Linked DNA regions of Homo sapiens. The protein of the gene in region 1 interacts with the protein of each later gene in a pairwise test. Each region holds a gene or a part of one and is shown on either strand. Other genes may lie near its edges. The genes, in order: KHDRBS2, DOCK2, ZNF497 and SULT1A4.

Region 1 (7,835 bases):
TCACATAATTCCATTTCATCTCAATTTTTTCACCTCCCTATTGCTCCTAAATACCTCCCTTAAAAGTATTAAGTAAGTATGATAGTTGGTATATGTGTTGACCTTGTGCATTTTTTAATAAGTAAATTCTTATCGATTGAACCCTTTTGTGCATGAAAGTATAGTAGAATGAATAAGCAGAAAAGCTCTAGAAAGAGAATGCCTGGGTTCTAAATCCTAGTTCTCCCACTTACTAGATGTTATTATATTTCATCAATTTAAGGATTCATGTTTTTCACATTTTGACATCTCAAAGTGATTGTCTTCTTGACATACATGGCATAGTCATAATTTAACTCAGTGTTTTCTCTCATAGTGTTAAGATAAAATAATTGTGTATCTCATAATGAATGAGATAAACAATAAGTTAAAATGTTGACCTTGGATATGTTATGTAATTATATGTTACAATTTAATTAATACAATAATCACTTAGAGACTTACAATAAAACATTAAATGTATTACATGTAAAGACATTTACAACTGTATCGGATATTTAGTAAGTGCTCGATACTATATATTTGTTATTGCTTGAAAATTAAAGATTGGTCATACCAAATGCCCACAAAAAAAAAGAAAATAGCTTTACAAAATAGAAAATCTTATTAATAAGAGAACTTTGCATAACATGAGTTAACAATTCCTAATTTGAATTGTTATGAAATTATTACTTTATGAAGTTATTTAATTACACTTATATTCAAAAAGATGATGTCTAGAATATTTTAAGCTCTATAATTTGTTGAAAGTGTATTTAATTAAAACAATTTACATTTCAATAATCCTATCTATGATAACTCTAATTTTCCAATAATAATGTATACCAGAGAACAAAGCATTACATCTATATATTGTAATAATAATTTATTTTGCATAATTGATGAATGAAAATATATGACATCTCTAACACACATCACCACTATATGTTGCAGTGAGTGCAGTCACTGAAAAACGAAACATCGGGGTAAATTTTGAAGGCTTTTGTTTACCACGTTGAGAACGAATACATAGAACTAATAGAGTTTGTTAAAGAGGAGAGTAGTCATATTTGTTTATGCGAAAGACTACTCAATTATCACTGTGGTTGATGCAGAAGAGTTACAGTGATTGAGAGAGAGAGAGAGAGAGAGAGACAGAGACAGAGAAACCGTCTTATGGCAGGGGAGCCAATGAGAAAACAATTCCATCATCCAAGGCAGATAAAAATGAGCAGCATTTGGAATAGACAGGGATAGGGCCAGATTAGAGATTAACATTTATATGAATTAATGCCAATTAAACGTTGGAGAAGAAGAGTTCCCCAAGAGAAAGATAAATTTTTGGTGTCTAGCCTGGTGAGAAATTGATGATATCATTAACTAAGAGTAGGTGAAGGATCAAATTAAATGAAGAATATAATTATTCTTGTAAATAATCTGAGCTCTGTGGATTGCTGGTGTGACCTTGGGCAGGTGACTTGTTCTCTCCATGCCTTAATATCTCAATGTATTTTTAAAAAACTTAGAACTGCCCACATGACAAGCTTGTCAAGATGCTTAAATTGGAGTATTCATTTAAGGCAGTGGTTCCCAAATTGGCCTGTATTTTGGAATCACTGGGAGCTCCCTGTCTCCAGAGATTGTGGTTTAATTGGCCTAGGGTATGGCCTGGAATTTGGAATTTTCAAAAGATCCTCAAGTAACTTTAACATGCAGGCAAGTTAAGAAACTTCTGATATAAGGAACACAAGCCAAGATATGGCATTATGTTAGGAAGAAAACAGATTATAGCCATCATCAGAGGTAGGGATTGCAGGGTGCAACCATGAGATCGAGGATAGAAACTGGGGACATCCAGATTCCAAAGTGGGTCCAGGAATACAAGCCAGTGAAGGAGGATAACGAATAAGGAGGAATGAGGAAAAGTAGAGAAAAGCAGAGTCATAAAAGTCCAAAGAAACATTTTCCAGATAATAGTCCACAATCTTAAAAATAGTAGAAAGGTGCTGTGGCATGGAGACTGTAAAGAAATCTAGTGGATTTGGAAATCAGTAGGCTACTGGTGATCTCAGCCAAGAGCATTTTCAACAGAGGGGTGAAAGCAAGAACTAGACTGATAACATTCAGTTCAGGAATGTAGAGGAAGTAAAGAATTAAACAGAAAATATTCTTTCAGCAAGTCAGACAAATAAACGACAGGATACTGTGGTGTGGTTTTAGCCAGGGGCAGTATCCTAAAAAAAGTGATTTGAATTAAATTGGAGGAGAGAACAATGAGGTTAATATTCCAGGGAAAGAACATAGTGGATAAGAGGTAATGAGTCAGGTTCAGGAGGCAGGTTTGCTAGGGCTGTGTCTGGTAGTCAGTTGATGAAGGAAGAAAATGGAAAATTAGATTTGATATGAGCATCATATAATATTAGAGCAGAAGGAAGTACTATAAATTTAGAAATCTGCATTTTACTCATTAGAAAAAAAAATATCTATCTTAAGCCTAGGTAGTTATAATACTTACCCATGACTATTCAAGGGTATAGCGAAGGCTCGTGAATAGAGTAGGGTGACCATATAATTTATTGCCCACACATGGATATTTTTGAGAGTGTTAAAATGCTAAACTGAACAGGAAGCTAGGACAACAGTTATAAAACCTGGACATATGCTCATCTTGCTTATGAGGAAACAGAAATGTGCTTGGAGGAGCAGTGAAGGCAAAATTGGTTTTTACATCCCTTTATGTATTATCATGGTAATACAGAATACTGTATTCTTAGCCATGTTGTACTTGCAGCCAGCACTGGGCCTCTGGGTCTTTGTGTTTCACCTTCTCCCAATCTAGGAGAGTATTCTTTATACATTAGACTCACAATAAATTCTCTCATCATTTCTCTATTCATCAGCTCTGTAATCTATTTAAAAATTTTAAAGGTTTTGCCAGCATTCGTACCCTTCACTTATAAATGCTCACTTTTATTTTAAGCAAGAAAGAGCCATCTGACTGCTATTCATAGCAGACAGCATAACCTATGTCCCCATATGTGCCTACAGCCAAATACTGTGATTGTTGACATCTCAATGATCATCATTTTTTTCCCCAAAGCTTTAGTGTTCCCACTGAAAGCAGTGCTATCTAGAGGCCAACCTTTCAGACAAAATAAAAAGTGAAATAACTGTTCTTTTGCCCAAAGACTTCAGACAAACACTCAACCATTCTAAAGGCTTCAAAATGCCATAAAAATTGGCCACAACCATTTGATCTTACACTTTTAGTGCAAGTCAATTTTGTATCAAGAACTGCAATACAGAGTATTCAGTCTGTTATTTTTATTACAGATACTAAAGTATTCCTCTAACACCATAGTTATGGTTAAGAAAATATATTCTGTCAGGGACTGCACCAGTTCAGGGGGTTACAGGCATGATGATAAATCAGTGACAAAGAGTTGTGATTTCAAGTAATCTCAAACTTAAGCAGCTATAGTAAACAGAATGATATCACTATGGTTAGATTCCCACATTTTATTTAAGTGCAGCCACCTTTTTTTTTGGTAAATGACAGCATTGTCCATCACTATCTGTAATCCCCAGCATAAAGGAGATGCAGACATCTGAAACCGCTCAGTTTCAGAGATGGTCCAGTGAGTCATATATCAGACGATGCTCTGATTTGTGTCTTCTTCGAGAATTTGGAATTTAATGGGGTTATATTCAGAGTGGGTTTTTGTTTGGGTTTTTTTTTTTTTTCTGGCTTTGGGTTTTTAGTTATATAAAAGACAATAACAAAGTATTTTACATGGTTTTTATAAGAACTAATCATAGTCAGTGTTTACAATTATTGTCTTCTATAGATATCAACACACTTTATATCTTATATAATTTCTATTAAATGCATACACACACACACACACAGAGAGAGAGAGAGAAATTTGTATTTATTTCATTGTATGGAGGCTGTGAGATGAAAACTTTTTCTGTGATAGGCCCTTTTCTCTCATCACCTGTTTCTCATCTATACATGACTTGTTTCTCTTAGGGGCCGTGGGGGTGCCATTCCTCCTCCCCCACCACCTGGACGAGGTGTTCTCACCCCTCGGGGAAGCACTGTAACCCGTGGAGCGCTTCCAGTGCCACCTGTAGCAAGAGGTGTCCCTACCCCTCGAGCCCGGGGGGCACCAACAGTGCCAGGATACAGGGCACCTCCTCCTCCAGCCCATGAAGCTTATGAAGAATATGTAAGTACTCTTAAGAAATAAGTTGTAAGGATGAGTTAAATTGATTAGTTAACAAGCTACGTCTCAAACTGTTCATATACCGTGAATATAGCAGGTAATGTTTGTTGCAGAAACGAATGTCATTTACAACAGAATTTAAGCAGTGCATTTAAATGAGAGCATTTTGAGAAAAGGTTTCATTTTACAGGTGTCATCACTGTTAGTGCTAGTTAAAGAGCTTGTATTTTAAGAACCAAACTTATCCTTAGGAAGTTTGATCAGATTTCAAATGAGAAATAATTATAAACAAAAGGTGAATTGCCATGTATTCAGAGATTTCTGGAACTTGACAAAGATTAGCATAAAACTCAGAAATATTTAACAAATATAATATGATTATATTATAAACTTTGGGAGTATTGTAAGACCGTGTGGCTGGTCTTTCATTTATATATCCTGACTCTTTCTTTCACCATATTAAAGATGTGGATTGGCATAAAAAATTCAAAAAAATATACAATGAATAGACAAAATGCAGTGTTTCCAAGCATCCCCCTCCCTTCCTATCTACTGTATCTTTTGGTCATCTTATGTATCTAAACATCTTTTAACCTTTAGTTCTGATTGTCAGTATTCCACTAATTACATTGTGGTCCTTGTGTCCATTTCTCCGACTAGATTGTGAAATATGTAAAAAGGGAAAATTTACTAATAGTGTAACAATAGGAAGTCTTCTGTAAATGTTTTTTTTTTTATTATTATACTTTAAGTTTTAGGGTACATGTGCACAACGTGCAGGTTTGTTACATATGTTTACATATGCCATGTTGGTGTGCTGCACCCATTAACTCATCATTTACATTAGGTATATCTCCTAATGCTATCCCTCCCCGCTCCCCTCACCCCACAACAGGCCCCAGTGTGTGATGTTCCCCTTCCTGTGTCCATGTGTTCCCATTGTTCAATTCCCACCTATGAGTGAGAACATGCGGTGTTTGGTTTTTTGTCTTTGCGATAGTTTGCTGAGAATGATGGTTTCCAGCTTCATCCATGTCCCTACAAAGGACATGAACTCATCATTTTTTATGGCTGCATAGTATTCCATGGTGTATATGTGCCACGTTTTCTTAATCCAGTCTATCATTGTTGGACATTTGGGTTGGTTCCAAGTCTTTGCTATTGTGAATAGTGTCGCAATAAACATACGTGTGCATGTGTCTTTATAGCAGCATACTTTATAACCCTTTGGGTATATACCCAGTAATGGGATGGCTGGGTCAAATGGTATTTCTAGTTCTAGATCCCTGAGGAATGGCCACACCAACTTCCACAATGGTTGAACTAGTTTACAGTCGCACCAACAGTGTAAAAGTGTTCCTACTTCTCCACATCCTCTCCAGCACCTGTTGTTTCCTGACTTTTTAATGATTGCCATTCTAACTGGTGTGAGATGGTATCTCATTGTGGTTTTGATTTGCGTTTCCTTGATGGCCAATGATGATGAGCATTTTTTCATGTGTCTTTTGGCTGCATAAATGTCTTCTTTTGAGAAGTGTCTGTTCATATCCTTTGCCCACTTGTTGATGGGGTTGTTTTTTTCTTGTAAATTTGTTGGAGTTCATTGTAGATTCTGGATATTAGCCCTTAGTCAGATGAGTAGGTTGTGAAAATTTTCTCCCATTCTGTCAGTTGCCTGTTCACTCTGATGGTAGTTTCTTTTGCTGTGCAGAAGCTCTTTAGTTTAATTAGGTCCCATTTGTCAATTTTGGCTTTTGTTGCCATTGCTTTTGGTGTTTTAGACATGAAGTCCTTGCCCATGCCTATGTCCTGAATGGTAATGCCTAGGTTTTCTTCTAGGGTTTTTATGGTATTAGGTCTAACATTTAAGTCTTTAATCCATCTCGAATTAATTTTTGTATAAGGTGTAAGGAAGGGATCCAGTTTCAGCTTTCTACATATGGCTAGCGAGTTTTCCCAGCACCATTTATTAAATAGGGAATCCTTTCCCCATTGCTTGTTTTTCTCAGGTTTGTCAAAGATCAGATAGTTGTAGATATGTGGCATTATTTCTTAGGACTCTGTTCTGTTCCATTGGTCTGTATCTCTGTTTTGGTACCAGTACCATGCTGTTTTGGTTACTGTAGCCTTGTAGTATAGTTTGAAGTCAGGTAGCATGATGCATCCAGCTTTGTTCTTTTGGCTTAGGATTGACTTGGCAATGCAGGCTCTTTTTTGGTTCCATATGAACTTTAAAGTAGTTTTTTCCAATTCTGTGAATAAAGTCATTGGTAGCTTGATGGGGATGGCATTGAATCTATAAATTACCTTGGACAGTATGGCCATTTTCATGATATTGAGTCTTCCTACCCATGAGCATGGAATGTTCTTCCATTTGTTTGTATCCTCTTTTATTTCATTGAGCAGTGGTTTGTAGTTCTCCTTGAAGAGGTCCTTCACATCCCTTGTAAGTTGGATTCCTAGGTATTTTATTCTCTTTGAAGCAATTGTGAATGGGAGTTCACTCATGATTTGGCTCTCTGTTTGTCTGTTATTGGTGTATACGAATGCTTGTGATTTTTGCACATTGATTTTGTATCTTGAGACTTTGCTGAAGTTGCTTATTAGCTTAAGGAGATTTTGGACTGAGACAATGGGGTTTTCTAGATATACAATCATGTCATCTGCAAACAGGGACAATTTGACTTCCTTTTTTCATGATTGAATACCCTTTATTTCCTTCTCCTTCCTGACTGCCCTGGCCAGAACTTCCAACACTATGTTGAATAGGAGTGGTGAGAGAGGGCATCCCTGTCTTGTGCCAGTTTTCAAAGGGAATACTTCCAGTTTTTGCCCATTCAGTATGATATTGGCTGTGGTTTTGTCATAGACAGGTCTTATTATTTTGAGATATATCCCATCAATACCTAATTTATTGAGAGTTTTTAGCGTAAAGTGTTGTTGAATTTTGTCACAGGCCTTTTCTGCAACTATTGAGATAATCATGTGGTTTTTGTCGTTGGTTCTGTTTATATGCTGGGTTATGTTTATTGATTTGCTTATGTTGAACCAGTCTTGCATCCCAAAAACAGTCCAGGACCAGACAGATTCACAGCCGAATTTTACCAGAGGTACAAGGAGGAGCTGGTACCATTCCTTCTGAAACTATTCCAGTCAGTAGAAAAAGAGGGAATCCTTCCTAACTCATTTTATGAGGCCAGCATCATCCTGATACCAAAGCCTGGCAGAGACACAACAAAAAAAGAGAATTTTAGACCAATATCCCTGATGAACATCGATGCAAAAATCCTCAGTAAAATACTGGCAAATGGAATCCAGCAGCACATCAAAAAGCTTATCCACCATGGTCTTCTGTAAATATTAAATTTAACTGATGCAAGCCAGATCATTGTACTATGAAAATGATTTATTTTGCCTTTAACCTCTCCAGCATGTCCATCTCCTGATCTAGGTATTTGTTTCATTCAACTATCCATAAACATGCTGTCCTCTTCAATGTCTTATGTAAATTATTGCTCATTTAAATGTAAACTCTTCAAATATAGTTACTGTCACATACTGGGCACTCAAAACATATGGACTGGTTAA
Region 2 (7,835 bases), on another chromosome or scaffold:
CAGAACGGTGTTGAAATGCTGAAATTTCCGGTCTGCAATGAGTCCTATTATGTAAATCTGAGGAAGATGCAAGGCAGCAGTATTTTCAGGGCAAACCCAGGGCAGGAAGCCATCTTTACCTGGCATAATTCAACCCCCATTAAAATCCTTTGCCCAGGAATTAGCTCACTAATACATAATGAGTTCTCTTTATTAAGGTAGCATCTTCCCAAAGAAAATGTTTCATGAAGTGTGCTGTGGGGTGTTATAAGATGAAAAGGATTTCATGGTCAAATAGGTTTTGAGAAATGTCAGGTTATCATTATTAGACTTTCTTATTGCAAAACTTTTTAGAATCTTTAATATACTTATGTACATTGTGAATCTCTAAAAGGGTCATGCAACATTCAACACTTCCCTAAATTAATTAATCAAAGTATATATTTGTCATGAAACATCTTTTCTGAGAGCTAGCATTCTAGGGTACTCTCTGGGGAAGCACTTGATTAAGCCACAGTTGTCTCTCAGTAACCTCTTTAAAAATGCAAATATCCATGACACAAGGGGTTAACACTTAAAAACTTTGTTGGGCACTGATTCCCTAATGCAGATGTTTCTTGTGTTTATTTTGACATAACACTGAGAAAATCTGAGTCGAGATAGGGAGAGGACAAAAAGACCATAGGGGAGGACTAAAAGAAGGAAGATCTGGATGGTACAGCATCATGAAAAGTTCTGGGTGGGTAGGAGAAATGTAATGATTAGTGAGTTGGAGGAAATGGGGAGAAGAAGGTGAAAGGAAAGCTAAGAAACATTTTTGGTGCTTTACAACCTAGCCAGGGACTAGCTCCCAACATTCATAGAAAGCAGAAGCAATCATTCACAATATCCAGCCTCATGTACCTTCAGCCAGTGTCAATCTGACATCAGCATTTAAAATTCCCCTTTCACCCACAATGCCTCATGCTTTCAAATGAACTGGCAAGAAGCAAAAGGAAATAGCAGCTCATTATTGGTCTTGTTGCCAAACATTACAACACCTCCAAAGAATTCATGAAAAAGGCCATGAGGGCCATGAGGGCCATGAGTTCTCAGTATTTTCACAGTAAGACATACATTAATGCCTGTTGTCACTAGACACTTTTCCCCTCTCTCTTACCAAGGCATCAAAGACGAGGATGTCATATTCATCACTTTGAGAATGCTCCATCATGATGTTGAAGAGGGCATCCAGAGTATCCTGGAGAAACTGGAAGAAATAACAAAGGTTGCACTACTTCAGAAACAAGACAAAGTACAGGTGAACCAGCAATCCCACTCCTAACTATCTATAAGAGAATGAGAGCACACATCCACCACATGTCATGCTCAAAACGTCTAGAGTAGTTTTACTCACGAGAGCCAGAAGTTGGAGGAACCCAACTGCCCATCAACAGCAGAATGGATGCACAGATGGTGGCATGTTCACACTAGAGAATACTACACAGCTGGACTAAAGTGCAAACTACTTCCACAGGCAGAAATGAGGATGATTCTCACAAGCATTATATGCAGTAAAATACATCAGGCACAGAAAGTACACTCTTCACTATTCCATTCTTATGAAATTTGAGAGTAGGCAAAAACCCATCTACAATGATGGTTGTCAGGACAGTGATTACCCCGGGGGACTACTGGCTGAGAAGGGGTATGAGGGAATCTACTATAATGCTAAAAGTGGTCTGTATCCTCTTCTGGGTGGTGAGTACACATGGTGTTTACGTGTGTAAAAATCCATTATGCTATACTCTTAAGATAACTGCTCTGTATCTATTTCATCATATGTATATCATATTTAAATAACAAACTTTTTTAAAAAAAAAAAAAGAAAAAAGAATGCAAGAGGAAGACAACAAAAGCCTCATCTCTTCCATGACTTCTCCAAGCTACCAAAAGGCTATAGACTTTATTAAAGTGGTGTCTTGGGGAGTTACTCTGCCATTGCTGAACGAGGTAGATGGGTCAGTGGTATACATTTACGGCATCTGGAAATTCTGCCACTGCTTCTCCAGGTAGAGGCAATTAAATAAAACTTGATTTTCCTCCCTCCTAAGGGATGGGTCAATATTTCCTATAATCCCTCAAAACACAGAGCTACCATATAAAGATGTTTAATCTCAGAATTTCTAGCTGTATCAAGGAAACAAGATCTCCAGGACCATTGGGAAACACTTGTCCCAATTCATAAGGCTGGAGAGAAGGGTTGCTTTAATTAGATTTGCACTTCAGACGCTTTCTATTCTCCACTACCATGTGGATGCAATAATACATCTGACATTTGCATTGTTTTCTGCTTATTTCACTTAAAATGTAAGCCCTGATGTCTTTCCCTTTCCCGTCTTTAATACATAATGCTCTCCAAGCAGCAGAAACCAAGAATACTTTTTATTTCTAACAATGATCTGTGGGTAGTACTAACAGATCATACTACTATATATATATGTATATATACATATGCACACATATATATGCTCACACACATACATACATATATATGCATATACATATATATCAACATATGACAACAAAAATAATAATTACCATTTATTGAACTTTGTTTTATATGCTTTGGTTTAATTGTTGTGTACTATGTGTAAGAGACTGTTGAGTAAGTTTTAAATATTATCACCTTGAATGCTCATAACAGCCCTGAGAACTATGTCACTTTTATATTATCACATAAAGTTGGCATGTGGGAGAGCTGGGATTTACACCCAGGCTCATCTATTTCCAGAGATTGAGCATAACCATTGTTTTCTGGCACCCAACATTCAGTGCCATTGAACCAAGTCACTCCCCTGGATTTCCCAATAAAGATTCCTCAAGGCAACTCGGGAGAGTGTATCCTACTGTTGGAAGAAAAGTTTCCCCATGTCCTTCAATACCTTGTTTTTCCCCTGAAGCCACCCACATGGAGAGTTCTGTCACTAGTGTAAGAATACAATCAAAATGAAGCCCCACTGACCTTCACCACTTCCTCTCCATCCACAATCTTCAACTTTTCTAAATTCTCCTGTAGCAGTTGAGGCTTCATACGCCACTTCAGCAAACCCAGCAAGCCCACTAAAATAGAGTCCAGACATTCAGAAGTATCATTACTGGCCTAACTGTCCATATCAGGACCTCCTTGGGTCTGCAAGCACATACACACATGTACACACACACGGACACACACACTCCCCACAGACACAACTCTTGATGACCCGATTACCATTCTGAGTGAGCTTTGTGGAGCACACCAGGGTGGAAATGGAGAACACATCCCGGGAGCTGACAGAAAGCCCCCCAACACTGCTGGAGCTCCTGCTCAGCGTGGCCCCCTTGTTTTCCACATGGTGTCGATAAGAAGGAAGGGTCAGGTATGCGCTGGCATCCTCCATCTTCTTGCTGTCCCCCTGGAAACAACACTTGGTTACTGCCCCAAGCCAAGGCTCCATGCCCAATGCCACACAGAGCCTGCAGCAGACAAATTAGACACTGTGAAGTGGGGAGAGTCATAAAGAGTGAAGAAAATCATCAGAGAAGCAATAGACATTGGCTGGTGAGGCAGGACTGTTTTTCCACAATACAGGTAAGAATTCAAAGACACATTAATAGAAAGGGGGTTGATCCACCAGGTGAAAGCTCTGTGAACCTCATTAATGGCAAAATAAAAACGGAATTGAAAATTCCCAGACAGTACATTTTAATTCATCCTTTTTTTGAGACCATAATATCTGCTCACCAGCAAAATAAGGACTCTAGCTTAAAGAGGAATTTAATGGCAAAGGCACTAAGTAAGAGTGTGCTGGGATCTGGACCCTGTTTTGCCATTCACAGGTCTATGCTATCTTGAATACACTATTTTGCCTCTTTGTGTCTCATTTTTTTTTTCATTAGTAAACTGAAGACAATCATCATCCCTACTTCCTAGAATACCTGAGCAGATAATATGGAATAATGCATATAGAATACATAGCAGAGTGATACACACATAAATGAGTGGCATGTTAAAATGAATGACTAGAGGTAGGCATTACAGAAGATAACATTTATCTTACTCCGCACCAGGAGTGAAACCAAGTGTTTTATATGTCTTGGTTCATTTCATTTAAGCCTCATAACAAACATATGAAGCAGACACTGTTATTATCCTCAGTCAAGGAAACTGGGACCTAATGGGGGTAAGTAAAAGAAAATTGACTGCAACTAGGCCTCTGACCCCAAGGAGTTCACATTCTGTCAGGGAAGAAGGGCTTTCAAGCCAAGAATTCTATGTGTGATAAATGAGAAAACAGAGGCTGTACAGAAGAAAGGGGGTTTTCTGGAAAAGTCAGAGAGACTCAGAGAAGAGTACAAGAGTACTATGAGATGAAGCCTTGACGAGGCTGTGTTTGCCATGCATCCCACAGGCAAAAGGGCAATTTCAGCCTACAAGGCTAAGAAAGCCAAGGGCAAGGGTGTGATCCATGTGCTGGCTACTCAACCTTGCTCCACCTCACAGCCATACACTTGCCTCCAGCCAGGTGCTAGTAGATGCATTCTGTTGTCATAAGAGGACATGTGGAAAAGCAGCAGGTAAAAACCAGACAAATGCTCCTCCATGTCTCAAAAACAGTCCAAGTCTCATAATGTAAAAATAAAAATAGTGGACATCTGCACTCCCTTTATAGTTTAGATGGCCATTTTTCATGGGTCATCCTAGTGGGTTGTCATAAATATTGCCACAACTGCTTAAGAAAAAAGAAACTGAGACTCAGGAAAATATGTGAGATGAGTCCAGGCTTAGTCAGCAGCAGGATCAGGACTGCAGGTTTTAATATTTTCCCATTAGCTACAATGCAGCATCTCTCAAATGTTTATTGTACATCCTCTACACATGCCACAGAGGTCCCTACAGAGTCAAGAGTATATAACAGTCATTAACAATAACCTTTCTGTAAATAACAATAACCTTTTCCATGTATTGAGTTCTTCCATGTACTCATCATTGCTATGTTTACATCCACTGTCTCATAATTTTCACAAATATTCACTGAGGGCACAAAGATGAGGAAACAGAGGCCCAGAGAAGTCAAGAGTTTATAAGAGGCCACAAAGTTGGTAAACTCTGGTGTGTGTGATTCTGGGGTCCCTGCTGTTGACCACTAAGCAATTTTGCCATCACCCCCTTTCTTCCTGCACTCCCCTCAGTGCAGAGCTCCTTCCAACTCATGGTACCTTGAGGACAACTAAGTCATGGAATCCATCGTGTAGAGTAGTCCCATCTTCTTTCATCAGCTTCACATAGGACATGGCAAAGTTCTTTTCTCCTTTATCTTTAGCTGGAAATAGCATTGTGGGGTCAGGAAAGAAAATGATACATGGGCCACCCAGCTCTTCCATTCTTCTCCCCTTAGGGGGAGGTGCAGAGATGCCATTCAGTATGGTACTCACATTCCAGAGATGACCGATGTCGAAACATGAATCGCAGATGGATCCTCTGCATGTCTTCAATAGGGACAGCCACCTCAGCAGACAGAAACAGAGCTCAGAACACAATGAGTTAAAGGGCCCTCCCCACTGCACCCCCCTACACACTTCCACAGCAGCCTGACCATTTAACTGAGAGAGCTGCCTGCTGATTTACAACCCATCCATTGAGGCTGATGAACTGTAAATAAATTACAGAAGAACTAGCTATGAAGAGAAAATAAAGTACCAAATGTAATCCATTTGGCAAATTGCATTCCCAGCCAATGAAAAGAGGTCTGTAAATTATAGTGAGGAAAAATGAGTCTCCCCAAATTGATATAAAAGTCACATAACTTTAGCACAGGATTTGATGCACTGCAAACTGCACAATGCACATTTTCCTTACACACTCCAGGAGTTCTGGCAATTGCAGCAGGGCTTAGCAAATTAACAATGGTTGTTAGGGGGTTTGCTTGAGGAATCTCATTTATGCAAATTAATAAAAATGCTTTAATCCAATAATATTTGGAAAAATCCTAGGGCTCATCTCACCCTTGATCAGACACATGTCCAGATGTTTTTGATTCCAAGGACACTGAGCTAAGACAACAACCCACTGGTCACCCAGGCATCCCTGTCCAGTGAATGACCCACTGGTACCACTGATTGTGATGCTTTCAGCCTGGCTCTGTGCTGCCCACCTCCCAAAGTCTCACAGCTCCTCTGCAATCTGAGATTCAGGCCAATGCGGAGAAGGTTAGCTACCTGAGAGAAGGACACTGATTTTAAAAAGGAATACATTTGTACTGTACAGATGCCTATTAAACGCCAAAACAAATGTATACTTGGGGGCACTTTCTGTTGCAGAAAATGAGGCTTGAGCCTGAGGAGGTCCACCATCCTGTCTATGTTTCAGGCAGAGCAAAGGAACTGAGGGTCTCATGGGTAACTGCAGCCAATTCATTCTTTCCCTGAGTGTTGAATGTTCACTAGAAGCTACAATCATGTGGGGTGCTGGCCATGCTGATACAAGGCAGAGTCCTCACACTCAAAGAGCTCATTGTTCCGTGTTACACATGGGGCAATGTGTAACAGCCCTGTGACAAGGGCTAGCAAGGAGATACAACTGAGGTGCAAGAGAGAACAGAGAAGGGAAACCTGACCTGGTACATTAACTTTCTGACCACAGAGTTGACCGGGTCATCAATTCGAAGGCATTGGGTATGGGGAGACACACTGAGCAAAGTAATAATATGTGTAATAAGTGGAGAACCGCTGGGGTTTGAATAGCTCTCACTGAAAAGGAAGTCAAGTGTGCATCTTGTGTTTGGAGTCAGAGCCCGGGGGGAATAAAGAATGCTGCTAATGATAAGGCAGAGATATCTGAAGCTATGATCAAGCTGCAGTGTTCACTGAATTAATTCCAAATCCTTATTCCAATGCAGGTTATTCCTTTCTGCTTAGTGTGACGATCTGGTAATGTAATATTTGTAGTTAATGTCACTTCTGTCAAGGAATTATTCCAAAAGGGCATCTTTCAGGCATTATACAGCCTGTGATAGGCTCACATTGGCTTGCAAGCTCTGTCACTCCTCATTGCTGAGTAGAATGGTGCAGCTTGATGAACTGGGCACCACCCACAAGAGGACTATTTGACAATTCCACTTTGGTTACATCCTGCACCAAGGAAGGGTGATCAAGGGAACCAGGGTGCTCACCCACCTGGCCTCCATTTCCACTGGCTGACAATACCACCAGACACATGCTAGGGGGTCATTTCAGATTCAGAGAGGTGCCTCCAAGGACCCTAAGCTCTTACAGATGGTGACTTCTGCTATAAACTAGAGCTAAAGAAGTTTTTCTGTCACTCTATGTCCCTCCAGTATGTTCATGACTGGCCTCAGAATTGAGTTAGATATTTCATGAAGAGAAACATAATATATTCTCATATGTTGTTCACAATCACATTGATCCATCAAGCCTCCCACCTGCTTTGGCTAAAACAAAGAATTTCTAAAATATGTTCAACAGAATCCTAGCCCCAGGATATGACACTAGGAAAAAGGAAAATGCTCGGTAGTCAACGAGTTTTGGGACGTGCTCTGCATTCTTATTTCCTTTTGCAGGTCTGCAGAGCACATTTACATCTCAAGGGCTCTAAGAACTTGACATAAGGAAGCCTTTAACTTCTATATTTGTTCTCAAGTTTCTCACATTTGACCAGGAAATGTTATTTTAATACATTTAACGTATGAATTTTTTTTTTTCTGAGAAGGAGTCTCGCACTGTCACCTAGGCTGGAGTGCAGTGGTGCAATCTCAGCTCACTGCAACCTCCGCCTCCCAGGTTCAAGTGATTGTCATGCCTCAGCCTCCTGAGTAGCT
Region 3 (6,730 bases), on another chromosome or scaffold:
GTAACTTTTTTAAAAAACATAAATACCATACAATTCATCCTTTTAAAGTGTGTAATTCAGTGGTTTTTGGTATATTCAGTGTTGCACAGTCATCACCACTAATTCCAGAATATTTTCATCACTCCCACGGCTGTATCTCCCATTTCTCTCTTCCCTGCAGATCCTGGCAACCGCTGATCTACTTTCTGTCTCTTACAGACTTATCTGTTCTGGACATTTCACATAAATGGAATAACATAATATGAAGTCTTTTGTGTCTGAATTTTTTCATTTACACTTAGCATAATATTTTCAAGATTCATCCATCTTGTAGTATGTATCAGTATTTATTCTCTTTTTTTTTTTTTTGAGACAGAGTCTCACTTTGTCACCCAGGCTGGAGTGCAGTGGCGCGATCTCGGCTCACTGCAACCTCCACCTCCCGGGTTCAAGCAGTTCTCTGCCTCAGCCTCCCGAGTAGCTGGGATTACAGGCGCCTGCCACCACGCCTGGCTAATTTTTGTATTTTTAGTAGAGACGGGGTTTCACCATGTTGGCCAGGCTGGTCTTGGAATTGCTGACCTCGTGATCCACCCACCTCGGCCTCCCAAAGTGCTAGGACTACAGCCGTCAGCCACCGCACTTGGCCTAACTTAAATTTTTAAAACACTTCCTGGAGGGGACAAACAGGACCCATCTGCTGGTCTGACTCTGGGTGTCCTGTTCACAGTCTCTGTCTTAGTTGTTCTGTGTGTGGGATGAAGGGTGCCAAGGAGACAGGGCAGGGCAGGGACCCTCAAGAAAAGCGGGGAGGCGGGGGGAAGGGATGGTACAAGCAGCCATGGCACCTCAGTGTGTCCCTCAGGCACCTGGACACACAGGTGGGCAAAGATGCTGACACTGGGGGCCAGAAACGCCGATACCCCCATTCTTCCATTTTTACTCAGTCTCAGGTGGTCCCAAGGAGGGGACCTTCGTGGCCTTGCTGTGCTCACAGGCTCACCTTTGTGTTTCCAGCTGCAGAGAAAGTACCCTGGGCCATGCAGCTGCACTCCCCTCCCAGGAAAGGGGCAGGATGGCTGCCCAGATGAGTGAGGCATCAGCCCTGGCCCCCCAGGTCTTCCCGAGTCCACTGGAACTGATGGTGGGTGAGCCCAGCTCCAAGAGCCCTGGCCAGTGCTTCTGGGGGTTCTGCTATGAGAAGGCAGCAGGGCCCCGAGGGGCCCTGGCTCAGCTGCGTGAGCTGTGTTGCCAGTGGCTGATGCCTGAGGCCTGCTCCAAGGAGCAGATGCTGGAGCTCTTGGTGCTGGAGCAGTTATTGGGCACACTGCTCCCAGAGATCCAGGCCTACACGCAGGAGCAGTGGCTAGGCAGCCCTGAGGAGGCCACTGCCCTGGCAGAGCGGCTACAGCAGGAGTCAGCTGGGCCAGGACTCCAGATGAGTGGGGGCTGGTCTGGGGGCTGGGTGTGCTTCCCCTGCTCACGACCCCAGCTGAGCCAGCACTGGGGCCAGTCGTGGGTTGGTGGCTGAGAGGGCCTGGGGGCTGTGGGAAAGTGATGGTGACAGGTGGGAGTTTGGTGGTCTTGGCTTGGACGGCAGAGTCAGAGATCTCCAGTCCACACCTGTGTGCTCCGCATTGTGTCCTGAGAACTGAAGGTGCAGAGAAGGGTGGGTCATGCCACCGCATGCCCCTTGTTTTCTCAGATCTGCTAGGCTGAACACCTCACCCTGCCCTGCTGCCTTCCTGTCCCCAGGTGCCAGCCCCCAGGCCCCAAGAGGAGCTGGTCCCCAGGACAGAGGAGGGAGAGGAGCAAGAGGCTCCCCTGGGCCCCTTCCAGGCCCCACCTCCAGGTATGGCACCATCTACACACTTGTCCCTGCCCTGCCTTGGCAGCGGGGCTGGAGACTACACAAGGATGATAAGGTGCTCAGGGCAAATGAGGATGGGTTTTGCTCGCTGTAGAGACTTCGCTGTGGGAAGGATCGGCTGGACAGGCAGGCATGGCCTTAGGACCAAGGAGGCCCTCCCACCCTTGGCCTCTCTCTCTCTCAGGGATCTGGGCTGCACAGCCACCCCATGCCTTGGACCACCTGGTCTGACCTGCACAGAGGCCTGGTGTGGACATTGCCTGGGTAACAGCCACTGAGATCCTCCAGCCTGGACATGCTGCCCATACTGTGTGGAGGGGACTACCCAGGGATCCGGCCAGGGTGGAGTGGGTGAGGCAGACATAGCTGTGTTTGGGTCAGGCGGTGTCCTCCAGCCTTCAGGAATGGAGACGGGTCCATCGTGTTCCTCACAAACTGGAGTCTCCACCTTCTTGACACTTGGGGCCCCACCCTGTGAAGCAAGGAGAGGAGAGTGGTGCCACAGTAGGGCCAGTGCAGGTGCGTGGGCAACTTTGAGTCCTTCTGCGATGCTGGCGCCCCCTCCCCTCCTGCTGGGCCGGGCCGGGTGTGGGGATGTGCACGTGGCCCTGTCAGGCAGGCCCAGAGTGCTGGCCCATCCCCCGAGTGTCTAGCCCGCCTGCTGGCCTTCCTGCTCCAGGCTCCAGAGGGCATTGGGCATCCAGGGACCTGGAGGAGAAGAGTGGGGGATGACAGCCCACCCACCGTCGTGTCCCCCTCAGGCCCTCTGTCTGGTGTTCTTTGTATTCTCTAAGGTACTTGCCTTTTCTCTCCTGTTTTAGGTCACAGGCGCGAGATGGAGTCCCCAAGAGGGTGGACCCTGCAGGTGGCCCCAGAGGAAGGCCAGGTCCTCTGCAATGTGAAGACTGCCACGAGGGGCCTCTCTGAGGGGGCTGTGTCTGGAGGCTGGGGGGCCTGGGAAAACTCCACGGAGGTTCCGAGGGAGGCAGGGGACGGCCAGCGGCAGCAAGCCACACTGGGGGCGGCGGACGAACAGGGAGGCCCCGGCAGGGAGCTGGGCCCCGCAGACGGTGGGCGGGACGGGGCTGGGCCCAGGAGCGAGCCTGCAGACCGGGCGTTGCGCCCTTCGCCTCTCCCAGAGGAGCCGGGCTGCCGGTGCGGGGAGTGCGGCAAGGCGTTCAGCCAGGGCTCTTACTTGCTGCAGCATCGGCGCGTGCACACAGGCGAGAAGCCGTACACGTGCCCCGAGTGCGGCAAGGCCTTCGCCTGGAGCTCCAACCTCAGCCAGCACCAGCGCATCCACAGCGGCGAGAAGCCCTACGCTTGCAGGGAGTGCGGCAAGGCCTTCCGCGCGCACTCGCAGCTCATCCACCACCAGGAGACACACAGCGGCCTGAAGCCCTTCCGCTGCCCGGACTGCGGCAAGTCCTTCGGCCGAAGCACCACGCTGGTGCAGCACCGACGCACGCACACGGGCGAGAAGCCCTACGAGTGCCCGGAGTGCGGCAAGGCCTTCAGCTGGAACTCCAATTTCCTGGAGCACCGGCGCGTGCACACGGGCGCGCGGCCGCACGCCTGCCGGGACTGTGGCAAGGCCTTCAGCCAGAGCTCCAACCTGGCCGAGCACCTGAAGATCCACGCGGGCGCACGGCCACACGCCTGTCCCGACTGCGGCAAGGCCTTCGTGCGTGTGGCGGGGCTGCGGCAGCACCGGCGCACGCACAGCAGCGAGAAGCCCTTCCCCTGCGCCGAGTGCGGAAAGGCTTTCCGCGAGAGCTCGCAGCTCCTGCAGCACCAGCGCACGCACACTGGTGAGCGGCCCTTCGAGTGCGCCGAGTGCGGCCAGGCTTTCGTCATGGGCTCCTACCTGGCGGAGCACCGGCGCGTGCACACGGGCGAGAAGCCTCATGCGTGCGCCCAGTGCGGCAAGGCCTTCAGCCAGCGCTCCAACCTACTGAGCCACCGGCGCACGCACTCGGGCGCCAAGCCCTTCGCCTGCGCCGACTGCGGCAAGGCCTTCCGCGGCAGTTCCGGCCTGGCGCACCACCGGCTTTCGCACACGGGAGAGCGACCCTTCGCCTGCGCAGAATGCGGCAAGGCCTTCCGCGGCAGCTCCGAGCTGCGCCAGCACCAGCGCCTGCACTCTGGCGAGAGGCCGTTCGTCTGCGCCCACTGCAGCAAGGCCTTCGTGCGCAAGTCGGAGCTCTTAAGCCACCGGCGCACGCACACGGGCGAGAGGCCCTACGCTTGCGGCGAGTGCGGGAAGCCTTTCAGCCACCGTTGCAACCTCAACGAGCACCAGAAGCGGCACGGGGGCCGCGCTGCGCCCTGACCCGAGGACGCCCTGAGCGGGAGGTCGCGGACACACGGCATTGCGGGGTCTCGGGCGTGAGTGCGCTGTCTGCTGGCCCAGACTTTTTCGGGCCGCCGGTGCGGGCGCCCTCCTGCTGGGAGTGCAGGGGCGGCCTTGGGTGTGGAGAACCCTGGCTGCACAGTCCCTTTGACGATAGTCCACCGGCCACCCAGGCCTGTCTGGGGACATGTAGGATGGGCTCTTACCCCAGGGAGGGCGGCAGGCTCCACTTCGGCGAGAGGTTCGTCCATGCAGAGGTGGGCAAGAACTGGGGTCTCCGACAGGTGTGGCTATTTCTTTGAGTTCTCTGGCACTGTCAAAAGCAGCCAACCCACCCCCCAGTCCACATGGTCACCACTGCTGCTACCAGCTGCTCAGTGCAGTGGCCACTGTGTCTCCTAAGGTGCTCGCTTCAGTCAGCACTTCATCTCAGGCAACCACAGGTGACAGTTAAACATGATGAAACCGCATGCTATGGCTTTCTAGTGTCTCATATTCTGTTGGCAAGAAGCTCAGCACTGCATTCCTGACCGAGGTCAGAACCAGATCAATCTCAGAATCTCACCTGTGTAGGTCTGTTTCATGGGACTTTTCTTTTTTGGGGGAGGGGGCAGGGTTTCACTCTGTCACCCAGGCTGGAGTGCAGTGGTGCAATCACTGTTTATTGCAGCCGCGACTTCTTAGGCTCAGGTGATCCTCCCACCTCAGCCTCCCAAGCAGCTGGGATGACAGACTTGCGTCACTACACCTGGCTAATTTTAAAATTTTTTGTAAGGACAGTGTCTCACCATGTTGCCTAGGCGGGTCTCAAAACTCCTGGGCTCAAGTGATCCTCCTGCCTCAGCCTCCCAAAGCGTTGGGATTATAGGCGTGAGCCACCGCACCTGGCCAGGGAACCTTCTTTATACCAAGTACCACACCAGTCAGAGTCAAGTCAGGAAATAGAAACCACACTAGGTATTTCAAACAGAGGGGATATAAGTTAGGGACTGATTGTGCAGGTTTTGCAAGGCTCAGAGAGCAAAAGTGGATGTTGCAGAATCTCAGAGCTGGATACTTGCAGGAAGCTGCTACCACCCTTAGGGCTGGAGAACCCAGGGAAGCTAAGAGGAGGGTGCAACGAGGCTGGTGTTGGGACTGCCAAAGGAAACACAGAATGACAGCTCCATCTCTGCAGACCTCAGATTTGACCAGGCCTCTGGCTGCCTGGGCAGCCTCATTGCCAATGGGCTGAAAGGTTCTGTCACTGTTCAGTGGTCTGACTTCTGAGTTCTGTGCACACCCTGAGCTCTGCTCCTCTGGCCTGGCCACCAGTCCTTGTCTGAGTGCCCCAGGTCTGGTTATGACTTCAGGCCTCAGCACCTGGTTGTCTCTTCTGCAAAGAATGCATTCTCCCCCAGTCCACCCAGAACACACAGCCTCCATCCAGGTACTGGCTCTGAGCAGGACAGAGAGCATGCAGCAGGTGCTCAGCAATATGGAAATGGGACCAAACAGAGGGAGTCTCCACAGCTCCCCGTCCCTCACAGCAGAAGCCAGAGCCGCTGCAGTGCCCAGCTGGTCTTCATCACGTCTATGAGCTCTGCAATCGCTCTGCAGTCGCCTCAACTCCTGGTCTCCTCTGCTCCTTCTCACTGCACCCGCATCTCCCATGTTTGCACTGGCTGTTCCCTCTGCCTGGAATGCTCCTTGCCCAGTTATCCCACTGTCTTCTTTGCATCTGGCACACAGTAGATGCTCAATAAATGCCTGTGGAATGAATGAGTGGGGAGGATGCAGTGCAGGGGGCAGATGAGGGCTAGGCGGTTGCCCTGGGCCCTCACACTCGTAGCGGAGCTAGGCTGGGACACCCAGGGTGGGGACCAGACCTCCCCGGGTGGGAATGACAGGATGTCCATGGAGGCTGAGTGTGAAAGCACCACGGTCTCACCCCTGTCCTGTTCCATCCCAACAGGCTGTGGTGAGGAGAGGGGGAGGCAGGGGAAGCGGGAGGCCTGGCCTCCAGGCAGCAGGCTATAGCCACATGAGTGACCACCAGCAGCTCAGGTAACTGAGCACATGTCACGGGTAGGCCTGGGAAGCGCAGGTCTCAGCTGAATGACCTGGGTGGAAATCCGACTCCAGAGCCGTGGTGGGTCACACCATGCAGAATGAACCAGTGATGGAGAAGGAACCACAGTCCTCAGGAAGAGTGAGGGTGCACCTCCAGACAGCCCATGTGAGGGCAACCGCAGAAAGTCTGAAAAGAGGTGAACCCCACCTTTGGTGTCACATGTGCAGTGTGGTGTGACAGGGAGGGGCTCGCTGGGCTTCAGCCCCGGCACTCTCCACTTGACCTCAGCAGCTCCAGGTAGAGTGGGGAGAACTCAGCGTCTCCTTCTAGAACAGGTTCTAGGATCCATCACTGAAATGAGGATGAGGTGGTTTTAACATCATTTTATCACTCTTGATTTAGTTTATTAATCATACATGATTATTGATTATAATTGTTGCTGGGCATCCTGAGGCCTCAGAAGTTCACCCTTTGC
Region 4 (8,696 bases), on another chromosome or scaffold:
CCCCAGGCCAGCTCATCTGTTGAACTGGCAAAGGAGGAACCTGAGGCTTAGAGGCTGACTTGCTTGAGATCTCACTGCACAGGTAGGGCCAAGCTGGGATCTGAACCCTGCTCGGAAGCCAAAGTCCTGCCTGGTTCCTGAGACCATATTCTATACTAATATAATCTGCACCAATGCCATCATATCCTGATCTGGAGCAAGGCATGCCTGGTCCCCACCAGCTCCCCCTCCTCCGCTGACCTGTGAGCACCCACATGCTGCCTTTCTTAAGTGTGCACTGTAGAGACTCACTATCCTTGCATCAGACCCTCATCAGAGCAAGAGGCAGACAGTGTCCTCTCTCAAGATGTGATGAAGGCTGGGCGTGGTGGCTCATGCCTCTAATCCCGGCACTTTGGGAGGCCAAGGTGGCCAGATCACCTGAGGTCAGGAGTTCAAGACCAGCCTGACCAACATGGTGAAACCCCATCTCTACTAAAAATACAAAATTAGCCGGGCGTGGTGGCAGGTACCTGTAATCCCAGCTCCTTGGGAGGCTGAAGCAGGAGAATTGCTTGAACCCAGGAGGCGGTGGTTGCAGTGAACCGAGATCACACGATTGCGCTCTAGCCTCGGCAACAAGAGTGAAACTGTCTCAAAAAAAAAAAGGGCCAGGCGCGGTGGCTCACGCCTGTAATTCCAGCACTTTGTGAGGTCGAGGCAGGAGGATCACAAGGTCAAGAGTTTGAGATCCACTTGACCAACATGGTGAAACCCCGTCTCTACTAAAAAGAATACAAAAATTAGCCGGGTGTGGTAGCACACGCCTGTAATCCCAGCTACTCAGGAGGCTGAGGCAGGAGAATCACTTGAACTGGGGAGGCGGAGGTTGCAGTGAGCTGAGATCATGCCACTGCACTCCAGCCAGGGTGACAGAGCAAGACTCTGTCTCAAAAAAAAAAAAGATGTGATGAGCCTGGCAGAAGCGAGGAGGCCCTTCCAGAAGAACAGGTACATGGCTGAGAGGGCACCTGAGCCCCCCTTCCTGGCTTTCCTTGCCAGTCAGTGGGAACTTTTTTTTCGTAGAGATGGTTTTGCTGTGTTGCCCAGGCTGGAGTGCAGCAGCAGGATCATCAGGGCTCATTGCAGCTTCCTATTTGCATAAACAGTCCTCCCCGCTGAGCCTCCTAAGTAACTGGGAACAGTCTATGCCACCATACCAGGTTGTTAATTTTATTTTTGTAGAGATGGGATGTCATCTCTACAGCAATGTTGCCCAGGCTGGTCTCCATCTCTCGCCTTCAAGGGATCCTCCCTCCTCAGTCTCAAACTGGGATGACAGGTGTGAACCATTGAGCCCGGCCTCACCTTGACCTTCTGATCCAACAGAGTCTGAGGGAGCAGAGCCAGGGGCAGGTGTGACTTGATGAGCCGTGGGGGCGGTGTGTCTTTCAGAGTCTCCAGCCCTGAGTAGTGGGTCAGGGAAGGTCTGGTGAGCTGAAGCCCCAGCCCTGTCTTCCTCCACTTCCCTTACCCCCAGGACCCAGCCATGCACCTGAGGGTTCCCCTGGATCATTGACCTCAAGGAAGGGCACCCGTACGTAGATGGGAGCCCGGTTACACTTCTCTAGGTCGCCGCCCTGGTAGATCATGTCCAGTATCTGGCTCACCCAGGTGGTGCCTGGAGAGGGAGGGAGATAGGAGGTGAGCAGGCTGAGGGCACGACCTTGCTGACCAAGGTGGGGACTGCCGCCTGGGAGAGGGTGGGTGGCCCTCCTCACTTACCAGACTTGGGGTAGGTGTTGATGAGCAGGTCATCAGGTCGGGCTTGGAAGCTCTGCAGGGGCCCCAGTGCCTCTGCAAAGTACTTGATGAGCGGGACCCCCTTCACGTACTCCAGTGGCGGGCGGGAGGTGTCCTGGATCAGCTCCATGTTCCTGCATCAGGGGCCAGAGCCAGGCCCGTTCCCTTACCACCATCACAACAGCAAGAAAGTGGGATTCTCTCTTTTTTTTTTTTTTTTTGAGATGGAGTCTCACTCTCACCCAAGCTGGAGTGCAGTGTGGCACAATCTCAGCTCACTGCAAACTCCACCTCTTGGGTTCAAGCAATCCTCCCGCCTCGGCATCCCAAGTAGCTGGGATTACAAGCATGTACAACCATGCTCAGCTAATTTTTTTTTTTCTTTAGTAGAGATGGGGTTTCACCATGTTGGCCAGGCTGGTCTAGAACTCCTGGCCTCAAGTGATTTGTCTACCTCAGCCTCCCAAAGTGCTGGGATTACAGGTGTGAGCCAGCACCCAGCTGCCCCTTTGCAGAGTTTTTGCTTTCAGGGAAGTCACTGAGGCCTAGGGAGGCTGAGTGACTTGCCCGCACTCACAAAGTCAGTCAGTGGCGGGGCTGGGGCTGAAACCAGGTCGTTCCCCAGCCTGGCCGCACCTTTCAGTCACCTGCAGAGCTGTTCAAAATCCCAGGGCCTGGGGCATAGTGCAGACCAGTGAAAGCACCCTCGTAGCGCGGGGCCCAGATATCAGGGTGTGTGAAGGTCTCCAGGAGAGTCCAGCTGTGCTGAGGAAGCTCTAGGGCCTGCCTGTGCTGTCTCCCTGCCAGCCAGCGCCCTTTGTCTCACCATTTCCTGCTGGGACCCCCAGCCTCCACCCAGTGCGCTCCTCTCCCCGATGCTCCCCTCCTTGAGCCCCCCTCATGCCCCTCACATGTGGAAACCTCCCAGGCCGGCCAGGTCTGTGATCCACTTGCCTGGCCACAGTCCATCTGGGCTCCAGAACAAACACAGCCCATTGAGCAACTAAGCTGGTACCAGGGGCTAGAGCCTCGTGCGGGAATGAAAACTGATGACTCATCAAAAGGAGGGGCCCAGGCAGGGTGACTCCCGCCTGTAATCCCAGAGCCTTGGGAGGCCAACGGGAAAGGATCCCTTGAGCCCTGGAGTTTGAGACCAACCTGGACAACAAAGCAAGACCTCTCCTCTACAAAAAATATTTTTCAAAATTAGCTGGGTGTGGTGGCTTGCTCTTGTAACCCCAGCTACTCAGGAGGCTGAGGCGGCAGGATTGCCTCAGCCTAGGAATTTGAGGCTGCAGTGGGCCAGGATCCCACTACACTCCAGCCTGGGTGACGGAGCAACACCCTGTCTCAAAAATACACAAAGGAAAAGAAGGAACGCAGGGGGATTCCGGCCAGGCTGGGTTGTCTAATTGAAATGGAATATCCATGGGAAAGGGCAGGGATGGCAGAGGCCTCGGCTTCTAGAATGTTGGAGCCACAAGCTGAGCAGGGTGAAGGTGCCCTGGGCCATTCCAACGTGTCACTCACCTGAGCTCTCGGGAACCTGACCTGTTCTCTCCTTGCCTGCAGGGGCTGAGTATGGGTGTGGTGTAGGGAGTGTAGGGCTGCTCTCTGCCCTGAGGGTTTTGAAGGTCCAGTGTGGGAGGGATCTAAAGTCAGGGCTGGGAACTCCAGGAAGGAAGGGGTGGGGTTGAGGGTGGGGAAGCTTCTCTATTACCCTCCTTACCACCACAGCTCCAGCCAAGCTTGGAGTGATCTGCAAACCCAATATGTGAGTTTAGTGTATAGAAAACACATGAATGAAAGGCAAAAGGGGCCAACATTGGTATTTGGGTTTTTTTTTTTTTGAGCTGTCACTAGGCTCCTGACCTTCCCTCTGAACTCCACCCTGCAGGGCAGGCCAACAGACAAGCTTTCTTTCTTTCTTTTTCTTTTTTTTATATGAGATGGAGACTCGCTCTCTCGCCCAGGCTGCAATGCAGTAGCACGATCTCCGCTCACTGTAACCTCCCCCTCCTGGGTTCAAGCGATTCTTCTGCCTCAGCCTCCCGAGTAGCTGGGATTACAGGTGCACACCACCACATCCGGTTAATTTTTGTATTTTTAGTAGAGACGGGGTTTTGCCATGTTGGCCAGGCTGGTCTCAAACTCCTGAGCTCAGATGATCCGCCCGCCTCGGCCTCCCAAAGTGCTGAGATTACAGGCATGAGCCACCATGCCTGGCCGACAAGCTTTCTCTAATTGACCCAGGCAAGGGAGGTGAGTGAGTGGAGGGGAAAGGTGGGATAGGCCGGCCTGGGAAAAGTCACCTACCTGCTGGCTACAGGCCAGTCTTGAAGGCGGCAGGGGTTCTGGCCCAGTGCAGTCCACAGGCCCCCAGCAGCCCAGGCATTCCAGGCTCTGACCACAAGGCCAGTCTGGAGTGATGTGTGGGGGCAGAGTGAAGGGGCAGAAGTGGAGCAGAGCATGGACATATAGAACAAGAAAGAGGCTGAGCGTGGTGGCTCACGCCTGTAATCCCAGTACTTTGGGAGGTCGATGCAGCAGGATCACCTGAGGTCAGGAGTTCGAGACCAAGCTGGCCAACATGGTGAAACCCTGTCTCTACTAAAAATACAAAAATTAGCTGGGCATGATGGCGGGCACCTGTAATCCTAGCTACTCAGGAGGCTGAGGCAAGAGAATCACTTGAACCCAGGAGGCGGAGGTTTCAGTGAGCCAAGATCACACCACTGCACTCCAGCCTGGGCAACAGAGTGAGACTCTGTCTCAAAAAAAAAAAAAAAAAAAAAAAAAGAAAGAAAGAAAGAACAGAAAGAATAAGAAAGGACAAGGACACTGTAGTCCCATTGCCCTAGGAGCCAGCCCTAGCTTCATGGCTCCTGGGGGACCTCACAGAGCATCAATAGAAGATCCTAGAAGAAAAACAACCCTGGCAGGTGCTTTTCTTTCCCTGGGTTTGAAGGAGGCTCCGTAGACAAGAGACTAGAGGAGATTAAGACTTGGAAGCCACAGGGCCCCGTGGAAGGAGGGCATCCCCCCATCCTCCTTGGTCTTTGTCCTATTTGCATTCAATTTCAAGGTAAGTCTCCCAGGCTTCCAAGAATTGCATGAGCTCAGAGGCAAGTAGGGGAAAGCTGAGGCATGGGGTTTCCAGGCAGAGTAGAAGCTGTTCACGTGCTAGGGCCAGGGGCCCCTCCTGCCTCCTCTGTGCCCCTGAGGAAGCCCCGTGACTGGCAGGACCTTGGGCTACTAGCTCCGCCCCTCCCCTCAGCATCCACCATAAGGCACCCTTGACTCAGACTTTTTATTGTACTCAAGTAAAAACCTGCTGGACCCACAGCAGGTGGCACAGAAAAGAGGTAGGAGGGGGTAAGGACACTGAGGATCAGGTCTCCAGCAGGTCTGTCCAGTGTGCCTGCAGAGGCAAGCAGTGTGGTCACAGGCAGCCCAGGGCAGGGAGTGGGGTAGGGAGCCCGCCACCAAAGCCCACTCACCTCTTCTAATTCTGAGTCTTCTACTTCTTTCTCAGTGTCCATCTGGCACAGCCAGATCAGGTCTCCCCAAAGCAGTGACTTCTCACAGCTACCAAGGAGAGGGGCAGGTAGGAGATACAGAGTCAGATGCCACAAGCCCCCTCCAGTATCCGCCCTGGATGCTGAGATGAGGGCTCAGCTGCCTGGGCCTGGATTGCACAACTGGGCACCCTCTTCCCAGAGGTGGACCAGGCTGGGGCCAGGGGACTGCACTCACCAAGGGCATTGGCCCTCTAGGGGCAGAAGCTGCCCTGGTTCTTCCTGAAGAAACTCCTCTGCCAGGCAGATCACATGGGCCCTTAGCAGGCAGCCAGGGTGGGGGCAACACAAGGGCCCCTCTTCATCCTGACCCAGGCAGCAGGCAGGTAAGAGACAAGGAGGGAGAGGCAGCTGGCAGCAACCCCTCTATGCAGCAGGCACTGTTGCGGGCATTACACAGCTCCATCCCATGAGGCAGGGGTGACTGTTATTTGCATCTTACAAATGAAGAAACTGAGGTGGACAGTTAAAATCCTTGCCCCTAGGACTAAGCTGGTGCAGGTCCTGGGAGCATCAGCAGTGATTGATTGAGTCACAGCCTCACCACTGCAGCCAGACCTGAACTTCCTCACAGCTCAGCAACACCCAGCAGGTCACTGAATGTCCCCAGGGCAAGTCCTCTACTCACTCACAATTACCGGGAGCTCAGTAGAAGGCACCCATCGTCCATTATTTTATTAAATATTTAGGCCGGGCACGGTGGCTCATGCCTGTAATACCAGCATTTTGGGAGGCTTAGGTGGGCAGGATCACCTGAGGTCAGGAGTTTGAGACCAGCCTGGCCAACATGGTTGAAACCCCATCTCTACTAAAAATACAAAAATTAGCCAGGCGCGGTGGCAGGCGCGTGTAATCCCAGCTACTCTGGAGGCTGAGGAAGGAGAATTGCTTGAAACCAGGAGGCAGAGGTTGCAGTGAGCTGAGATCGCGCCACTACACTCCAGCCTGAGCGACAGAGTAAGACTCTGTCTCAAAAAAAAAATAAATAAATAAATAAAAAGAAAATTTCTGGGCCATCGGCTCAGTGCAGGACTTTGTTCTACAGCAGTGATAAGTGCTGCCCTCTGATAGTGCAGTGTGGCAGTTGGGGTGGGAGAGGCTAATGAGATCAAGAAAACACGTAGCATGCCAGACAATAGTAAGTGTTAAGGGAAAGGGGGTGCAGAAAAGTGCACACAAGAATGAGCTGCAGTTCATTACATTGTTTTAGAGACAGGGTCATGTCCAGGCATGGTGGCTCACGCCTATAATCCCAGCACTCTGGGAGGCCGAGGCGGGCAGATCACTTGAGGTCAGGAGTTTGAGACCAGCCTGCCCAACATGGCGAACCCCATCCCTACTAAAAACACAAACATTCGGCAGGTGTGGTGGCACACTTGGGAGGTTGAGATAGGAGAATCGCTTGAACCCAGGAGGCGGAGCTTCCAGTGAGCTGAGATCACTGCACTCCAGCCTCCGCAACAGAGCAAGACTCTGTCTAAAAAAAAAAAAAGGGCCGGGCGCGGTGGCTCATGCCTGTAATCCCAGCACTTTGGGAGGCTGAGGCGGGCGGATCACGAGGCTAGGACATCGAGACCATCCTGGCTAACACGGTGAAACCCCGTCTCTACTAAAAATACAAAAAATTAACCAGGCGTGGTGGCGGGCGCCTGTAGTCCCAGCTACTCGGGAGGCTGAGGCAGGAGAATGGCGTGAACCCAGGAGGCGGAGCTTGCAGTGAGCAGAGATCGCGCCACTGCACTCTAGCCTGGGCGACAGAGCTAGACTCCATCTCAAAAAAAAAAAAAAAAAAAAGAGGGTCATGCTCTGTCGACCACACTGGAGTGCAGCGGAGTACTGATGGCCTAGGGAAGAACCTTTTCTTTGAAGGGGAAATGGTGAAGGCCCTGAGCAGGGCCTGCTTTGCTCAGGAATGGCCGTAAGTCCTATAGCATCAGCATCTTAGAGATGGGGATAGGGTGGCCAAAGCGTGTCAGTGGGTTTCCCTCAAGAAAGAGCTGGATCCGAAGTCGTCTGGACTCTAGAGCCATCCATTCCTCGGGGGGACCTCACCTGGATGGTCTGGGCGCACAGGGAGCAGCAGGCCCCTGGATCCCCCTGGTCTGGCTCAGGCTCCGCGTCATCAAAGGGACCTGCGCGGCGCCTTGGGGCCGGGGCCTGGGGCGGTGGAGGCCCGAAGGCCAGAGGCACGTGCGGCGGCGGCGGGAGGCAGAGGTCCTGGCGGAGGTCTGGGCGCACCCAGCGCAGCGTGAGCGGGAGGCGAGCCCAGGGCGGTGCGCGCAGCATGTGCGCCAGCACGCGCAGGTGGAAAGCGAAGGCTGTCTCTCCTCGCAGGCGAGGCCCCACGTGCGCCAGGCGGCGCGAGGCGTGCGGGTGCTGCCAAGCCCACTCAAACTGCGGGCGGCGTACAGGGGCATCAGGGCGGCTCGGAGCGAGGGGCGGAACCCAAGCCCTCACCCGGCCGCCGCTGCCCGGTCTCCTTCCTTACCCGAAGGGCGGCCACGGAGGACGGGAAGCCGTGCACGACGAGCACCATCTCCCTGAGGAGGAGAACCGTGATGTCCCTGTCGCAGCCCAGCGCCTCAGCCGCGGGTCCCCTCCAATCCCACCCGAGAGCGGGGTCCTCATTCCCGGCTTCAGCCGAGAAGTGCAGCCCTCTGCACCTGCCCACCTCAGGCCCTGCCTCCAGCCCAGGTACCCACCTGTCCCACCTCCTCTCTCTCCTGCATTCCACCCGACCCCAGCGTGCCCACCAAGAGCCCTATGCTGGAACCCAGCCTGGATCATCACCCCCGCCCCAGCTAGCTCCTTCCCTGAGTTCCGCCGCGGAGATGCCCCGGGCACCGCCTCCCCGTCACGCTCCTCCCCTGCGACAGGCCCCGTCCCCACCACAGACGCCCCGCCTCTGTCACAGTCCTGGCCGGTCCTTCTCAACAGGCCTGTGCCCCGCGGGGTCCGCCTCCTCTGGGACGCCTTCCTCCCGGCACAGAAGGCCTCCCCCTCTCACCAGGGCCCTCGCCCGCTGGTCCGCCAGGCCCCGCCTTTTTTGCGGCCCCCATTGTGCTGCTGGACCCGACGAGCAGTGTTGACAGTGAACCCCACGTAGACGCGGCCCCGGTACCGGGGGTTCAGGCAGTAGAGCAGGTAGACGCCGAAAAAGCGCCCTGGCCTCGCCGCGACCCCCGCGGGACCCATCGGGCCTTGGGGTTCGGGAACCACAGCAGGGGGTTGATTGCCGTGACCTAGGGTCCAGGGGAGGGCTGGATCGCTAGGGCTGCAGGGTGCTTGCTTCGGAACAAGCTCTCGGGGACTATCCGGAGGCAGCCTGCAGGAAGC

The links.
Region 2: the proteins of KHDRBS2 (region 1) and DOCK2 interact in binary tests that used the Homo sapiens proteins (3 or more experiments, as listed by UniProt).
Region 3: the proteins of KHDRBS2 (region 1) and ZNF497 interact in binary tests that used the Homo sapiens proteins (3 or more experiments, as listed by UniProt).
Region 4: the proteins of KHDRBS2 (region 1) and SULT1A4 interact in binary tests that used the Homo sapiens proteins (3 or more experiments, as listed by UniProt).

What each region holds. Positions count from the first base shown.
Region 1 is NC_000006.12:61,891,050-61,898,884, reverse strand, and holds part of KHDRBS2 (KH domain-containing, RNA-binding, signal transduction-associated protein 2), read left to right. Parts: intron 1-4,051; coding exon 4,052-4,250; intron 4,251-7,835. UniProt on the Homo sapiens protein: RNA-binding protein that plays a role in the regulation of alternative splicing and influences mRNA splice site selection and exon inclusion. Binds both poly(A) and poly(U) homopolymers. Phosphorylation by PTK6 inhibits its RNA-binding ability.
Region 2 is NC_000005.10:169,709,606-169,717,440, reverse strand, and holds part of DOCK2 (dedicator of cytokinesis protein 2), read right to left. Parts: intron 5,507-7,835; coding exon 5,434-5,506; intron 5,322-5,433; coding exon 5,218-5,321; intron 3,414-5,217; coding exon 3,230-3,413; intron 3,082-3,229; coding exon 2,984-3,081; intron 1,229-2,983; coding exon 1,139-1,228; intron 58-1,138; coding exon 1-57. UniProt on the Homo sapiens protein: Involved in cytoskeletal rearrangements required for lymphocyte migration in response of chemokines. Activates RAC1 and RAC2, but not CDC42, by functioning as a guanine nucleotide exchange factor (GEF), which exchanges bound GDP for free GTP.
Region 3 is NC_000019.10:58,353,590-58,360,319, reverse strand, and holds the end of ZNF497 (zinc finger protein 497), read left to right. Parts: intron 1-1,734; 5' UTR 1,735-1,831; intron 1,832-2,670; 5' UTR 2,671-2,684; coding exon 2,685-4,181; 3' UTR 4,182-5,963; downstream 5,964-6,730. UniProt on the Homo sapiens protein: May be involved in transcriptional regulation.
Region 4 is NC_000016.10:29,454,602-29,463,297, reverse strand, and holds the start of SULT1A4 (sulfotransferase 1A4), read right to left. Parts: upstream 3,386-8,696; 5' UTR 3,313-3,385; intron 1,917-3,312; 5' UTR 1,913-1,916; coding exon 1,765-1,912; intron 1,661-1,764; coding exon 1,535-1,660; intron 1,446-1,534; coding exon 1,348-1,445; intron 1-1,347. Other genes in the region: SLX1B (structure-specific endonuclease subunit SLX1), read right to left, coding at 5,174-5,203, 5,283-5,370, 5,539-5,666, 7,413-7,754, 7,849-7,900, 8,368-8,555. UniProt on the Homo sapiens protein: Sulfotransferase that utilizes 3'-phospho-5'-adenylyl sulfate (PAPS) as sulfonate donor to catalyze the sulfate conjugation of phenolic monoamines (neurotransmitters such as dopamine, (R)-adrenaline/epinephrine, (R)-noradrenaline/norepinephrine and serotonin) and phenolic and catechol drugs.